2 separate regions of the Homo sapiens genome follow, and region 1 is linked to region 2. The links come from fine-mapping of genetic effects on gene expression. A gene starts in region 2. The other region holds a variant in brackets. All regions are shown on one strand. Distances are between the middles of the regions. Region 1 overlaps MAST4 (microtubule associated serine/threonine kinase family member 4). Region 2 holds the start of MAST4 (microtubule associated serine/threonine kinase family member 4).

The links. PIP is the estimated chance that this variant, and not a neighbour inherited with it, causes the effect.
Region 1: its variant is fine-mapped to the expression of MAST4 in regulatory T cells (Schmiedel 2018, PIP 0.93).

Annotation. Positions count from the first base shown.
Region 1 is chr5:67,023,835-67,032,180 of GRCh38, forward strand. All of the region lies in intron 4 of MAST4 (microtubule associated serine/threonine kinase family member 4), which reads left to right. Among named protein-coding and RNA genes, the nearest start is that of MAST4-AS1, 24 kb to the left of the region's middle. The variant T/G (reference allele first, on the strand shown) is at 4,633.
Region 2 is chr5:66,592,270-66,600,615 of GRCh38, forward strand. MAST4 (microtubule associated serine/threonine kinase family member 4) reads left to right here and starts at 4,124. Exons shown (of 29, transcript NM_001164664.2): 1 at 4,124-4,749. The coding sequence starts at 4,387. RefSeq lists silencers at 3,760-3,959, 4,570-4,709, 4,720-4,869.

The sequences.
Region 1 (8,346 bases), 430 kb after region 2:
TAAATTTTGTCCAATTACTGCTCCATCTCTTCTTCATTCTGTTCATGTCTTTTATTATTTTTTAGGATAGAAAAAAATGTTTAATTGTGTACACATACAATTTACCATCTTGGCCATTTTTAAGTGTACACTTTAGTAGTGTTAAGTACATTTACAGTGCTGTGCAGCCACAGAACTCCTTTCATCCTGCAAAACAAACTCTACTCATTAAAGAGCAACTCCCCATTCCCCCTCCCCCAACCCCTGGCCACCCCCATTCTAACTTTCTGTCTCTATGAATTTGACTACTCTAGGTACCTCATTTAAGTGGACTTATGTAGTAGTTGTCTTTTTGTGGCTTGCTTATTTCACTTAGCACAATGTCCTCAAGGTTCATCCATGTTGTAGAATGTCTTGGAATTTTCTTCCTTGTTTCTGGCTGAACAGTATTCCATCCACACACACGATGGAACACTGTTCAGCCTGAAACAAGGAAGATATATATATATATCTATATATATATACACACACACACACACATACATATAGATAGCTATATATGTACACACACGATATATATCTATATGTATACACATACATAATCGTGCAAGCATATATATGGAAGGTGCACTGTTGTGCTCAAAATGTGGGGTGTGTATATATAGATATATACATATCTATATATACACATTCAAAAGACTTTCAAATCTATTTTCTAGAAAGGATTGCGTTATCTTCATCCTAAGTAATGTGTAAGTACTATTTGCAGTCATTGAGGATAATCCTCTTTGGTGGTAAATAGGTGAACTGATTTTCTTTTTCTTAGATGTTTGAGTTTTAACACTTAATATCTAAACTTGCTTTTGAATACCTTGAATGAAGAAACTGATAGGTCCACACATACCGATGATGACAAAAGATTGTAAGAAGGAAAGGGATGATGCATGTGAGAACCCAGTGCCTCATTCAGTGCCTAGAACATGCTTCCATTTTATGTTCTTTCTTTTGGGGATCCCATGTTTTTTTTTTTATTTTTAGCTAAGGTCATCTGGAATGAAACAGCGTAATGAGATGAGCCCTGAAGTATGACACCAGAGATCTTGTTTTATATAACTGTGTACCCCACGAATATGTACAATTATTATTTGTCCATTAAAAATAAGAATTTTAAAAGAGATCTTGTTTCTGTTCACGTTTCTGCCACTAACTAGTTGTGTGACATTGACAAGACATTGTGGATTCTCTCTTGCTTACCTGTTTTGTTTTTTTATTTTTTAATTAAAGATTCCATTGGCAGTATAGTAAAGCCTATGGATGTAATTTCAGAATAACATTTTTAAATGCATAACATAAGATACGTAATATTATAAAGGAAACCAATTATAATGAAAGAGTCATGAACACATTAAAATATTTGTGATATATGTGGTTCTTTATTAGCACATCAGATATCAAGATCTAGAGGCATGTCTAGTAACTACCGTAACTTTGAAGTGATAATGAATACAAATAAGTTTTTAATATATCTGCAACAACTGTTAATGTGATATGGAAAATACATGGCTAATACTATGATGATAGATGTATAAATGAAGGAAATGTTACATTTCAGTTTCTGGTTAGTGAAAATAATAATTTTTTTAAACAAGCCAAGTTAGTGGACCCAGTGAGTTCTATTCATAGACATCTTGGAAGTCCACAGACTCCAGGTCAGAAGTTCTCTGGTGTCTCCAGTGGGTTAAACACTAGTAGTGGAGTGAAAGGCTGACCCAGGTGGCCTCTGGAGTTTGTTATGAAACTTGATTATCAGGGGCCTGGCATAATTGAGGGGATGTTATACAAAAAAAGTAACCTTTGATTTACCTGGTCAGCACTCCAGTCAGAAAAGTGCTGGCTTTCATCAGTTATGTTTAGCTAGCATGTAGCTAGGAAAGCCCGGAGTATATTAAAACAAAGAAGAACTATAGGAAAGGAGTAGAGTAATTATCACCCACATCATGTGCCTCTGGAGGGCCCCAAGGCCCGGACATGTGGAAATGTGACTGTGTCCCCTGTACTTCGTGTAGTACTTTAAAGGAGTCTGTATCTGTCAGCATCTCACCATTCCTTTGTCATAACTGCATGCTTTTCCCTAATTAAATGTGGCCATGAATGTATAAAGATTGTGTACTGCACCTACCTACTTGTCAGGCTTGAATTGGTGCTGCTCAGCTGGAAAGTAAAATCTTTGAAATACAAAAAAGCTAAAGAATAATATTGATAAAACACTTCTCATCTGTTAGTCTTAAAGCAGTTTTCTTTCCTAGAGTTTGTAAGTGTTTTAATGATCAAGGTCTAAATATACAATGAATAAGAGAAGTGGCGAGCAAAATTTATCCTAACCTTTTCAGAGGAGTGAAGACATTTCTTCCCATTACCTATATACCTACCACCTTCGATGCTACATTTTAGAGGGGAAAAAATATTTTAAGAGGCAAAGCCTCAAATGCTTTTACATGCCGTGCCACTTGCCTACCACAACAGCATCTCACAACAGTTTCTAATGGAGAGGAGCATTCTTTTTGGCTTTACAGCTGCTGCATAAATGCCCCTGTGTTAATTTGGGTACAGACTCACAGCCTGATAGACTGGGGAGTAGAGCAAAGTGCAGAGATTGATTTGTCTATCTGCTGGTGAAATGTAATTCATGCAACCATCAGCAGAATGCTTTGTAAACATGGAATTATTTTCAGGTTATAAGATCCTCTACTAAATTAGATAGGAAGCTTGAAGCATAGACTGTAAGTAATTTTTCCTCCTTTAGTTGTTGTTATGGATCAATACATTTTATTGACTCTTCTAGGGTTTCATACAGTTTTCTATCATGGTCATTTATGCTAATCAGCATGAGACAGAATAATTGTAAATCATAGCCCCTTAGGCACACTTCTGGAATATTTGAGACCACAGAATTCTGTTTTAAAAAGATGGAAAAAACAATTCATTTTTTAATGACTCATGGAGCCTGACACAGATGTGGAGGGCAAAGACTCCCTCCCTCCTTATCTTTGGGCCTCACCTTATATTAATATTTTAATTCTTAATGCAGATGAAAGAGAAACTCTTTGAAAAGAAATCAGGTTTAAATTAGCCAGTTACCTTTATTTGTAAAAATCCAAATATATCATGTTAAATATGGAAGGTAGGATATAATATATCCTATTTTTAATGATTTTACATAAGATTATTATCTTCAAGAACACATGTTTATATAATTATTGTAAAATATCAGAGTTATTGCTACAAAATATGTAAGGATATTTATCTACATTTTTAATGATACAATTCAGAGAATTAGTGTAGAAGACAGCAGTTTTATACTTTAATGTTGTACTAAGAAAGGTGATTTGAGTGCTGTTTGTATTTATTGGCAGTACTGAATTCACTGAAATATATAATTATTACAAAAAGAAAATAAACTGTATCTGTCTTGACCAAGAGTTCATACAGATGTTTTTTATTCTCATCAGATTCCCAACTATGCTGTGGAAGCAAAGTTGAATCTAGCCAAGTACCATATCTCTGTATGCACTCACAGATGAACGTAAATACACGTTGTGCACATAAGGATCTGGAGGGCTAATGATACCTCCTGGTACAACTGCAAAAAGAAACATAGTTTAGTGATGGAGTCTTAGACATGGTTCCTGAATGCACAGTTGATTCTAACCATAGAACTGCATCAAAGATGGCAGAGCTTCCTTCTAGTTTTCTTCTGATAATTCCAAATATAAACTTTACCTGTCAGAGTAAAAAGTAGAAGCTGTGCATTTTATAAGAATAAGCCTTTTCACCATAAGGGTTTTCAGTCTAAAAACATGTTTGTGGATTGTTAATGAATAGAGTTGGATGAAGAAGGAATTTTTTGACTTCTAGTCTGTATTAAGCAATTCAGATATGAAATATCCTTACTTCCTGGAAGCTACTCTTTAGGATAGGATCTGTTGTTATAACCACCTCTAAGTTTAAGATATGCAGAGGAGATTTCACTTGGAGATGAAGCTTGGAATTTGGAGCTGAGTGTAGTTGACTCTCCATCCTCTGCATTTATTTGTTCATTAATTCAGTAATATCAGTTGAGCACCTTCCATGTGTTAGGGATTGTGCTGGAGAGGCAGTGGTGAAGGAGACAGATGAGTCTCTACCTTCTTGAACGCTTGCAGCTTTATGGGAAATGCTGTGGAGTTGGGTGTAGAGACAGGAAAACACAAAGAAGTAACAGAATTTACAGTATCATGTGTGAGTATATGTCTGTCTTACTCCTTCTTAGCCATGCATGGTGGGGATTATAGTGAACTTTGAGGGCATCCAGGAGACACACAACAAAAAAGTGGGCTGTGAAAGAAGTAAACAACCTTGATGGGTGAGAGATCATTGAAATGTGGAAGACTGTAATCTAGGCAAAACAACAACAACAACAATACAAAACAAATAGCTATCGTACAGAGACTCGAGTGAGAGTTGAGGAGCAATTCCATTAGAGTGGCAAACAGGAAATGTACTCTGAGGGTAGGAGGTGCCACTGAAGGGTTTTGTACAGGACAATAAGATCACATTTGCCTGTAGGAAAGATTCCTAGCAATGAGGGATTGAACTGGAGTTGTGCAAAAAGGA[T/G]TCCAGGATCTGAGTTAGAGCAAGCATCACGGGCTTCTGGGGCAGATGGTGATGATGCCACAAGCAGGCTGGTGACCGTGAGAATGAAGGGAGACGCTCAGGAAGTGGATTCTGAAAGACTGGATGACTAACTGAGTGATTAGAGTGAAGAAGAACTAAAGTGGAGGTTGTGCTCATAGTTCTGCTTTAGCCTGTTAGACAATGGTACCAATTACTGAAATTGGGAACACAGAAGCAAGACACGTTGGATGAAGATGATATCTTCAGTTTGGGATTCATTGGACTGGAGCTTCTATAGACACACCCAAGTGGAGATGCTGGATATGTGGATCTGGATGGAAGGCAAGAGAGTTCCAGATTGGGGATTAAGAGTCATCCACCGCCGGGCATGGTGACTTATGCCTGTAATCCCAGCACATTAGGAGGCCCAAGTGGGTGAATCGCTTAAGCCAAGGAGTTCAAGACCAGCCTGGGCAACATGGCAAAACCCCATCTCTACAAAAATAAAAGATAAATAAATTCGCTAGGCATGGTGTCATGTGCCTGTAGTGCCAGCTACCTGAGATGCTGAAGTGAGAAGATCACTTGAGCCTGGGAGGTTGAGACTACAGGCAGCCATGATCACGTAACTACACCCAGCCTGGGCGACAGCACGAGACACTCTCTCAAAAAAAAAAAAGTCATATACATAAAGATTAATGAAGAGTGCCAAAGGTAATTAGTGTTGAATATTTATTTTCCAGCAGCTTCAAGTATTTATGGTCTGCTTAGACCCAGGTCAGAGTCTAAGGTTTCTGGCCCTCTGCATTCCCAAGAGAAATGGAGGTGGGGATGGGGAGACAATTTGTACATGATTTTAAAAGTGTTTTCTAGGAAAGACAAGCCATAGAGCCATCCTTATACTTATGTTTCCCATAGGCATATATGTTTTGTTTTACTTTGGAGTAATATTCGGGATGTAAACATCTTTGCTTGTAGGAGGATCAGATACCTACTGAAATGTCATCAAACTGCTAGCATGTTTCTTTTAGTTAAGTATATTGAGGGACCTTACCATTCTGTGTATTTCATCTCTAAGAAAAAGGAAATTAGGCTGGAGAGGTTTGAAAGAAATTGAGCAGGAAATTGGGGTTGCAAAATTCTATGGCAAGGTGATGGTGTGTTTTGATTGTTGGGTTTTGTTTGTTTATTTTTTGATAAGAACAAAAAGTGTTTGCTACTTAGAAAACCTTTATTGGCAGCATGATTTCTGTGTCCATGAAGAATGAAAGTGAGGTGGATGGAATAGTAGGAGTTTTAGAAGGAAAGTACATTTCCTCATGTGAAAAAGGTAGGAGAAAGGAAAATATAAATTCATTGCTGTTGACTTTATAATTTGATATTAACAACATTATTGAAATTGCTGTGGACTTGAAGTTTGTCCTGTTTACGAGTTTGCACAAAGTTAATCCTAATTATTCTGAAACTAAGACTTATATATTATTTTTATACATTTGAATTTCTCTAAATTATATACTTAAATTTTGTTTAATGAAATTTTTTCAATTAAATAAAAATGTATGTTTAAGGTTGAAATTTACTAGTATTTCACATGATTCCTTGTTAAGTGTTATATATATTTAGGAGCATCTAGGAAATTGTAAAACCAAATTTCAAATTAAATGTGTATTTTTATTATCTAAATATTTTGTATACATATGGGTCATTCACATCCTTATAGGTTTTTATTTAACAAATCATTTCTCAGGGCAATACAACATAAAGGCTCTATAGTTAATTTAGTAATAGCATGGTGTGATACCTGTATTCCGTATCTCTTTTGTTTTATAGTGTTACAAGCAATATTTGATGGTTTAGGGTTGTTTTCTTTTTAAACTTTGGCTTGAACCAGGTTAGCACTGAATGAGAGCTCTGAGATGACCATCTGATGTTTATTAGATAGCTGTGGTAAAATGACATAATCATCATTTTGGTTTTGAAGAGGTAACCATAGCACTGGTGGCAAAAATAGATCATCTGAGTGACATTTTAACTCAGAAAATAAATACCTTTTCATTTCTGTACATCACCATTCCAGAGCAGGCCTGGGGCAAATTGGTCAGAGTCCTAAGGGGTGATATTTAAAATAAGATCTGTTTTGTATTAGTAATGAGGTTGTGGTTTTAAGCCCTTCCATTCTGTTGTGTAGTTTCAAGGGAGTTTAGTTTAAAACATTAAAACCATACAAACATTGTATATTTGGAACACCTAACCTCTTCTAAGTGTTCTGTACCTCAGCACTTTTTTTATCTTGGGTGTTTGTGTCACTCTCTTACAACGTCTACTTTTATAAAGCCTTGGGTATCTCAAACGCTATGTTTTTATTTAGTATTTTAGTGCAATAGAACATTGTGCTAAAGAGGCCAAGGTCATGGGTGTTGATTCTATGCCAATTAACTGTTATGGTGAAATTTTTTTCCTGTAGCTTTGGCTGGTATTTCAGAAGTTGCTAGAATTTGACTACTTTTGTTTAAAGTGTGGATAATGCTGCCTAACTCATTAACTGTCCTGTAAAAAGTAAAATTGATGTCTATTGGGGATAACACTTCCACATAGGATATTTTTTTCCTATGTGAAAAAAGCATTTACTTTCATCTGTGGATGATCTCTGACTAGACTAAAATGTATGCGTTTATTAAATAGATTAATATCAGTTCCTGGTGGGTGGAGATTATCAGTCTTTAAATTGCTACTCTTTGCTGCTTTCCTCTGCATAGATACAGAGAATCTGTCAGCTCCCTGGCTAGTCCAGCAGAAAGCCCTGGGCATTTCCCAGAGTTGATGGCAGAGGAGGGTCGTCTCTTGTCGCCTTTTTAGCCTGATTTATTGCCCTTGAATTTTTTAATAAGGACATATTTTAAGTTCTGTCTAGGGACTGAGGGCTTGGATCATTCATGCAGTGAACTTTGAATAAGTTGGAAAGATTGGCTGGGCCCTGTTATCATAATGGATGGTGACTATTTGACATTTACAGTGGTATGCTCCATTTGCACTAAAATAAATGAATTTGTATTTAGACATGATTTGCAAAATTTTTCCCTATCACACTTAAAGTAGAGGTTATTTGCATTCAAAGTTAAACACTGAAAAACTGCGTACAGACTTAGTGAAGATTTGTAAAATACATGTTAATTGGCATAACACCATTAAACCTGATTGTGCTGATCTGTTAGCTGGAGAAAGAGCAGGAATCATCTTGTTCCCATATCCCTACAATCTAAATTGTTAGAGTTTCTAAAGATGGGGGACTTCTCTGAAGTGAATATTCCTGTCAGGCCTGTTGACCTTACTGCCTAGTGACCTATTCATAGGTCAGGATGGCAGTTCTCCCTGCTGGGTCAGTTTTTATTCCACCTTCTTTCGTGAGAGAACTAATTTGTACAGCTCTTACAGGTGGAGAACTAGATCACTGGTGTCCTTTACTGCCTCTGATATATGTGGAAATGAATCAGTGGAAAATTCAGTTACTCATCGTGACCTACTTCTGTCACTTGCGTTGAAGGGGTGCTTATTTGTCAAAAGCAATCTGCCCCCCTTCCAAAAACTCTTGCTCCATGGCTGCTTTAACTCATTTAATCTATAGATTCTTTCAGAATGTTTGCAGTTGCCTAAATCTTTCTGTGAATTATCCTGCTGTACCTGTAATCCATTTTAGATTAAGCCTCTGGAGGCCAA
Region 2 (8,346 bases):
CCTCCCCTGTTCTTTTTGACCATCATTTAAAAATCCTTTGACTTATCTTCTGGAGCTTTGTATAGTAACACTCGTTCCTTTCCTTAGATACAAACAAAAGCTTGAGAGGCTCCACGGGCTTTTCCTCCTGGCTGGATGATCAGAAACTTCCATGGTCTGTATCATGCTACACCCTCGGGTATAAATCGGAAACCCCAATCTAGCGCATCTCAACAGACACCTTTTGATAGATGCTTACTTTGTCTTGAAATTGTACTTTATTAGTCATAGGGGAGTAGGCAAATCCATCATTAACAATGATAATAAAAATAGTCTACCAAAGTTGGATAATATAATCATCTTCATAATTCAAAGATAATCTGATATTTAGGATTTTTAGTGCATTAAATAGAAACATATTTACTTGTGATTTTGCAAAAATGTTCGTTCTGAGTTCATGATGTTCTAATTTCATCTATGTAAGAAAGAAGGACAACTGACCTTCCTCCCAACCTGATGTTTGGGAGAAAGGTCATGACACTGGGAGTAGACTTAAGGGTATGATGACTTTGCTGGAACATCGTCCATCTGGCAGAGACAGCTTGACATTCACAATAGGCCTCACCTACACAGCAGAGACTGGCAGAGACAACAGAGACTCCCAGAGGAAATGTCTCCCGTCACTTCTGAGAAAAACATAGAAACCGGAGGGGGGCATTCAATCACAAAACACAATGAATACTTACCGGATTCCCAGGGGTGCTGTCCTTGAATCAAATACTTTGTGAGCATGTCTCACAGAACACATGGAAACTGATTACCTTGGAGTACACCGACCTTGTCTCTCCTCGCCTTAGGCTAGTCTGGTTCTGTCATGTGACGCTACACTATTGGCTTTTCAGGAGTTGTGATGATGTTGTTTTTATTTTTCTGGCTCCTGCCTATGGTGACACTGCAGAGAAAAACCTGTGCTTTCACACTCACCTCTGGTCCCACAGTCTCCAACACTAGACACGTTTATAAAAAGGTCTCTTGGAGGGGGCACATTTCTGACCACTGAGGAAAATATTTATTATTTAATTAACAAGATAGGAAAGTTGAACTTCAGGATTTGGATAAATCAAAACTGATTTTGGTCCAGTGGTTTGGCCACACCCCAGGAAATTTATCCATGGGTCTAACTAGGATACTTTTGGGGAACTATCCTGACTCTCTAGTCATCTTCTATTTATAGTTATCCTTTGAGTTGGCCATGTTCTGGTCTGGATACTCTTAGCCTGAACTACAGTTTATTTCCCTCACAGGTGGGTGTGGAGATGAACAAGTACACTTTTAAACTGCAAGTTTTGAAGTAGAGTTTGAAATCTATTTAGTGGACTACAACTAGCATCTTTATTTTTAATAAAATATAAATTTCAGGGTGCATTGCTTAAAGGATGGGTAAGTATTGTCTCATGACATTTTATTTGTATTTGTACATATGCATATGTGTCATGAGTTCCAGTGTGAAATATATTTCTTATTTGAGGTTCAGGTTTAAAAAGTTCAAGAAATACTGATCTAGTACTTGACTTTGATCTGTAGAGGTTAAGAGCACAAATGCTGGGACCAAATGTTCAAATCTGAATCCTGGGTCCATCATTTGCTAGCTGTGTGACTTTAGCTGAATTACTTAACTTCTCTGTCATAGTTTTCACATATTTCACAAATATGATATGAGAATAGTAATAGTAGCTACCTCATTGGGCTGGTATGAGAATTGAGTATATTAACATTTTAAAGTGCTTAAAATCCTGCCTGGCACATAGTAAGTACCTTAAAAATGTTTGTGGGAAAAACAAATATGTTCCTCAAGTATTTTCTTTTACAGATTGAATCAATACAGCAAAGTTTCTTCCCTATGGATATTTATAATATGGTATATATATATATTTGAAAAAGCTGTCTGTTTTGAGTGGCATTGTATTAATACTAGAATGCCTAGGAAAGACAGCCTTGGAATCAGGTTGCTGGGTTCCAAACCACAGCTCCACTGCTTACTTGCTGTGTGACCTTTGCAGATCCTCAGTTTCTTAATCAATAAAGTGGGACTAATAGAATCTGTTTCACAAGGTTGTTGCCAGGATTAAATGAGACCATCCAGAGAAGATGCAGAGGACTCAGGCGATAATAACTATTGTCATTCTTGCTGTCGGTTATTCAGACCATGACCTTGCTTCTTATTTCCCTATGTACTGAAAAGCAACTCCTCCTCTTCTTTTATGTGCATGGCTGAAATTGTCATTTCAGTTCAGCTCTGGTGAATCAACCACGTAGGGGCTCAGATAAAGACCAGAACTCCTAAATAGGAAAGTAATTGTGAGGCCCGGGTTAAATTCGGACTGCCCCACTGTGCTCTCTCTTTAGCCTTGCTCTCACAACTTAGCTGCCACTAGACTTGACCTTTTGCCTCAGCAGGTCTTCATATCCCTGTGAATAATTCAGAAGCGTCACAATGAAAGCCTGACAACCGGAGTCCATTTTGCAGTATGGCTGTCTGAAGCAAGATAGACAAAACGTATTTCCTTCCCCTTCATCTTGAGGGGAGGAAACTGATCAGGACAAAGGTTGCTGTCCAATATGATGAAGCCCTCTGTGTGATGTATCACTTGTAAATACCATGATAGCATGAAAGGCTCATTAGCTGAAGGGGCTTTCAATTAGGGTCCTCCAGTTTTTAAGGACCTTTGGCAAGGCTGCTCTGACAAAGAGAAATCTAAGATGCTCAAGGACCTGCTACTGTTTTTCTGTAACTCTTTCCTCTTCTCCCTCACACATTTTTCCTGTATCACTTATCACAGCTTCTAAAATGGATAAGGGAGCTATATTATGCAGTATCAATCTCTCGCTTGACCATAAGCTGCTCAAGGGCAGGGGACCTGACTTATTAATCTTTGTATCCCCTGCACCTGGCACACATCTCCATCAACGTACATGGAACTGAGGCGGTTGAATTTACATCCCAGGTCACTGTGCCAGAGCTCAGAATGGGACTAGAGCTGAAGGCAAGAGAGGAATCATTTATTTCCCACTGCTGAGCTGAGTGCTGGCTTCCAAGGAAATTCCAGTCACCGGACAGGCAGCATCCTCCAGCCCCAGGGAAGGACTTAAGGGTACTCTATTGGTACCTTTAGTGAAAGTTCTTTCTCCTAGTTCTTAGAGGTAAGGAAAATGAAGCAACCTGTCCTGTATCCTGTTGGTTTACAACCCAGGGCTAGGAGAATGTACATTGGAAAGTGAATCCTTTTCATCCTCTGCTTAGCTGATCATACCGAGACAGACAATTTGAGTAGGACTACAGAGCTTGGTCCTAATTAAATACAAGGACATACTTTTTTATCTTCCTCCCTATCAAAAGGTTCAAGTCTCAGACTTAACTTTTTAGTTTACAAACAGAAATAAAGACAGGAAATAGTCTTTTAAAAACGCTCCGTGTATCCAAGCCAGGCACTTTGCTGATGCATTATATATATTTGCTCTAAGCCTGCCAAGACCAGTAGTAATGTAGCCATTTACAGTTGAGGAAACTGAGGCCCAAAGAGCTTAAACGGAAAAGCAGAGATTAGAGGTCACTCCCCTTTGGGTCCGCTCACTATACCACGAAGTTTCTGTCCTTTTCCTCCAACACGCTGGTGAGTCCGTGTGCGTGGGTGACTGTGTGTGTGTGGTTCCTTTTTTCCCTATAGAGCCCTCCTTCTTGTCCGTTTTCTTGATTCCACTTTTTGGAGACAAAGTCCAGTTCTTCTCCAAGGTCTCACCATCCGCTCGCCGTCTCCCTCTGACGTCCCAAGGACGGTCAGCCACTCCCCCGCTAAGTTCGGAGTCTCAGCCCTTGGCTCCGATTCTGGGCTCCGCCCCCACCCTCCGGGGACCCCCGCCTGGTCCCTGTCCCCTGCGCCCAGGCGCTCCAGCGGGACCACGGCCCGCGCCCGGGCCCCGCCTCCCCTACCTGAGGCCCTCATGGCCGGAGGCGTCGCAGCCTCCGCCCACCAGCGCGCCTGCCCTGCCATTGGCTCTGCGGGCTGCCCGTCTCCTTGCTCCGTCCCGGAGGCAGGTTTTGCAAGGAGAAGCCGCAGTACCCGCGGCTCGGGTGCAGCGCGGGAGCACAGTGGAGCGCAGATCGCGGACCCGAGCGGGCATGTCCCCGCGCGCGGGAGCCTCCGTTTGCGGCCGGGCCCGGGCGGCTGTGAACTTAGCAGCGGGCTCCTGCGGCCCCGTCACTGCCATGTAGTCGCTGGCGGGGCTCCCTGCAGCCCGGGAGCGGCAGTGCCAGTGAGCCTGAGCCCAGGAGCCCGCGTCTTCCCCGGGAGGCGCTGAGTGCGCGCCGCGCCCCCGCCGCTCGGGAGGCACTTTGGGCCAGACAGGGAAATGGGGGAGAAAGTTTCGGAGGCGCCAGAGCCGGTGCCCCGCGGCTGCAGTGGCCACGGCAGCCGGACTCCAGCCTCTGCGCTGGTCGCCGCGTCCTCTCCGGGTGCTTCCTCGGCCGAGTCCTCCTCGGGCTCAGAAACTCTGTCGGAGGAAGGGGAGCCCGGCGGCTTCTCCAGAGAGCATCAGCCGCCGCCGCCGCCGCCGTTGGGAGGCACCCTGGGCGCCCGGGCGCCCGCCGCGTGGGCTCCGGCAAGCGTGCTGCTGGAGCGCGGAGTCCTTGCGCTGCCGCCGCCGCTTCCCGGAGGAGCTGTGCCGCCCGCGCCCCGGGGCAGCAGCGCGTCCCAGGAGGAGCAGGACGAGGAGGTGGGCCTTTCCCCAGCTTGCCCACTCTGGGTTCCGGCAGCCGGGCGACCGTAGTTTCCCATCCTGCGCACAGGCAGTGGGCAGGAGAGCGCTGTGGCCTGGAGATAGGGAGGGACCCCAAGCGCTCTGCCCCGAGCACGGGACAACGATAGTTAGGAGCCCCCCTGTGGGTTATTGACTTCCCTGTGGCTGTTACCCCCGTGTGTGTGTCTCAGTGTGCTGCCTGATGGTGTGTTTTTAAAATGTCAGAGAAGCAAACTCCTTCGTGTTTGTATCTGACTTGGTTGATCTGTGAAAGGATGCGATCTGGACATCTGGCGTGTCCCCACAACTCACCTCTGATTCTCCAAAGTGGGCGTTGTTTCCCACCGAAGCGCTTGGGCCGAGGGGCAGGGAGTTGAGGGGGAGAAATGGTGCCTTGGGGGTAAGAGGCAGGAGTAGGGTGGGGGGCAGCGGTAGCCGCGGAGTTGCCTGCGGAGGTTTCAGTGGCGCCAGCCCCCTGGGATCGCCCGCGGGTGGTTTTGGCGCGTCCCCGCAGCGTCGGTCCTCTGGGAGAAGAGGACTCCCCGCGCTCCCTCGGTGGCGCTGGCGTGCGCGCCTGCAGCTCCCGTTCAGACTTGTTTCCAGCTTGTCCAGATGAACGCTTGTCACCAAACCGAGTACAGATCGTCTTACCTTTTGCGGGGCGGAGCGGGGTGGGGGATCTGTATCTGCCCAGTTTCCTGGAAGGATGTTCCTCCAGAACTTGTGGGTCGCTTCCTGACACACTGAGCATAGGACTCTGGTGTCCTTCTGGCTGCTCTGTCCGGCTTATTTTCTGCTTTTGGAGGACAGTTAAAGAAGTGTACAATTCTTCACGTCTCAGAGCCAGACTCAGTTTAAAAAAAAAAAAGATTGTTTGCTTTGGACGTTTCTTGTGGGGAAGTCATCTTGATCAGGCAGGGCCACAAATAAAACATCACCTTAACATAGACTTATTGTGAAATTAATTCCTGAGTGCCAGTGTTGTATTTTCCTCATCTTGGATGGGGTTAGCTTTAGTAAATAATTGCCTTTGTCCCTTAGAGTAAGCAATCAGAGGCCCCCAGCCTGGAAGCAAAAACTGGATGTGGCACAAGGTTGAGAGGAGGCGAGTCCTAGCTTGGCAGAGATGGAACAAGCCTTAGCTGCTTAGCTGGTTCTTGGCCAAGCCACTTGCAGTAACCATGACCCATTCCCTAATTCCCCTAAGCCCCCATTGCAAGGATCCTGGATAAGGGTCTGGAGGCCTGCTTTCTAGAACTGCCTCTGCTACTGAGTGGTGAGACCTTGGGTATATCATTTCACTCCTCTGAGGTTCAGTTCCATAATCTGTAAAAGGAGGAGCTTCAAGGTAAATTTCATTTTCACTCTCATACTCCTGTTTCGAATCAGGAATTTCAGATGAATCCATAGCTCCAAATCGATCCTAGCGGCGGGATGTCAGGAGTTTGCTGAGTTCCTCACCCACCGCAGAGCTACATCCTAGCGGAGATGATCAAACCCTGTACTGCCCCAGCCTTCCTCGCTGATTACATCTCCCTTTCAAGGTGCGGGGCATGTGCCACGTGTTTGCCCCTTAACTTCTGCCTCCACTTCTACAGATGAGCACACTGGCATTGGGAAGCTGGGGGTGTACCCTAACTTAATGATTCACCAATAGTTCCTAATTTAGTATTGCCGCTGGTGGAGAGTAGTTAGTTGCTTTATGTTTTCTATTTAGCTAGGAGGGTGCTCCATGGTAAGTGACATGGTCTTGCAGGTGGTGGGGAGGGATGTTGTCGGGGAACTTCTGATCCCCATTCTGTCGCTGATTTATTGCCTGGCCTCAGGGTGACAGTGCTTTGCTTTGTTGGAAGTGGATATAATGATAACTTATTTCACAGGCAATGCAGTGAGAACTGGTTGATTGAAACACATTTTGGAAAGTGGAATGATTAAATAACATGGGTCACTATTTGTGAAATCTCAGAATTGCGTGTAAACTGATACAGTATTGCAATTTATTATGTAACTTAACCTGCGGCATGGGATGCTGGAAATTTCCCAGGAGCAAAATCTTGACTTGCTCTGAGAATTTTAAAGTGAAACGAAAACCAAACCATGTAGTTTTTTCCCCTCTTATGGAGTAGAGGAGTGATAATCTTTGTGAAAGGGGTTGAAGTCCAGTGTGCATTTTCTGGTTCTTACACTGGTGATGGTATGGGGCAGGGGGGTGTTCACCTTCACTGTTTGTGGGGTTGTGGGCCTCTTTAAGGAGCAAATGAAACCTCTTTTGCCCCTCTCCTCAAAAAGCACACCAGAGGATTCGGGAATGCTGGGTGATAAACACTCATTTTAGTGGAAAGACGTGGGTTTGATTTCTAGCTCTGCCACCTTGACCAGTTGTGGGATTGTGGACCATTCAACTTCTGCAAATCTCAGCTTTCCTACCTTTAATGGGAATAATAGCATTAGAGTTAGGCATTTTACACATGCTATCTAATTTAATCCTAGCACAGTAGCTAACATATAGCATCAAATGCCAAGTAAGTGTAAGTAAATATTAATTTTTTAAGGTCACTTTTGATGACATTTTGCAAAATAGGAATACAAAGTTGGGTTGTCCTGTTATTTTATTGCTGCATAACTTATATGCTACCTACTGTCAGAGAATCGGAGGCTATGTCTACTTAGCTTATACTCATAAAATGGGAATAAACTGGGAAACAGTTTTTATTTGTCTCCAGTTATTTTGTGACAAGGCGATGTGAGTGTAATGTTATACTGTAGAAAGGCACTGAGTATAAAGCATTAAAAGGCTTGTGTGCAACTCAAAAAATGGAAAGAGGTTCATTTAAAATTGTTATGTCTAGCTTGGGAAATTGATTATTTCTAAAGGGGTGTGTGTGTGTGTGTGTGTGTGTTTACAGTAACATTGTATCAAATTTTGAAAAGCAGTAAAATTCAAGCTTCTAGTATATTAGGGCAGTGCTAATTTCTTTGGCAACCTTGTTAAAACTGTTTTGAATGTATTTAGTAATGTCAACAGAGTTTGACTTATTTTTTACTTTATCTTACTGTCAATAATTGTATAAACTTCCAAAGTCTCACACACTTAAGTCTACCCTTTAAGCTTTTGGTGTCTTAAAAACAGTAGTTTAATGTGACAGTAATGGTAGTTTTTATGTCAAACACATGACAGCTAGACATACAGCATGACTTTTGTTTAAGGAAACTGTATCTGACTTTGGCTCTTTCCCCAAACCTTTGAATTTGGGGTCCGTGTGTGTTGAGGAGGTAGCACACTTCATTTCTGAGAGTTAACACTGTCTAGATTGAAGGACTGTTCCCCTGACAACATCTCTGAGATTTGCCTTTAGGCATTCTGCCTTGTCCTTTTCCAAAACACCCTGTGATGACTTTAAGAAAGTACTTGGGTGCTGTTTGGTAACTGTCTCAGCAAACTGGCCGAGGGCAGGAATTTTGTCTTTGTACGCCTAGCATGGTACAGTTAATATATTAGTAGGTGCTCAGTAAATATATGTTGAATGAATGAGAAAAAATGGCATCTATGAAAATAGTTGCACATTTGATTGA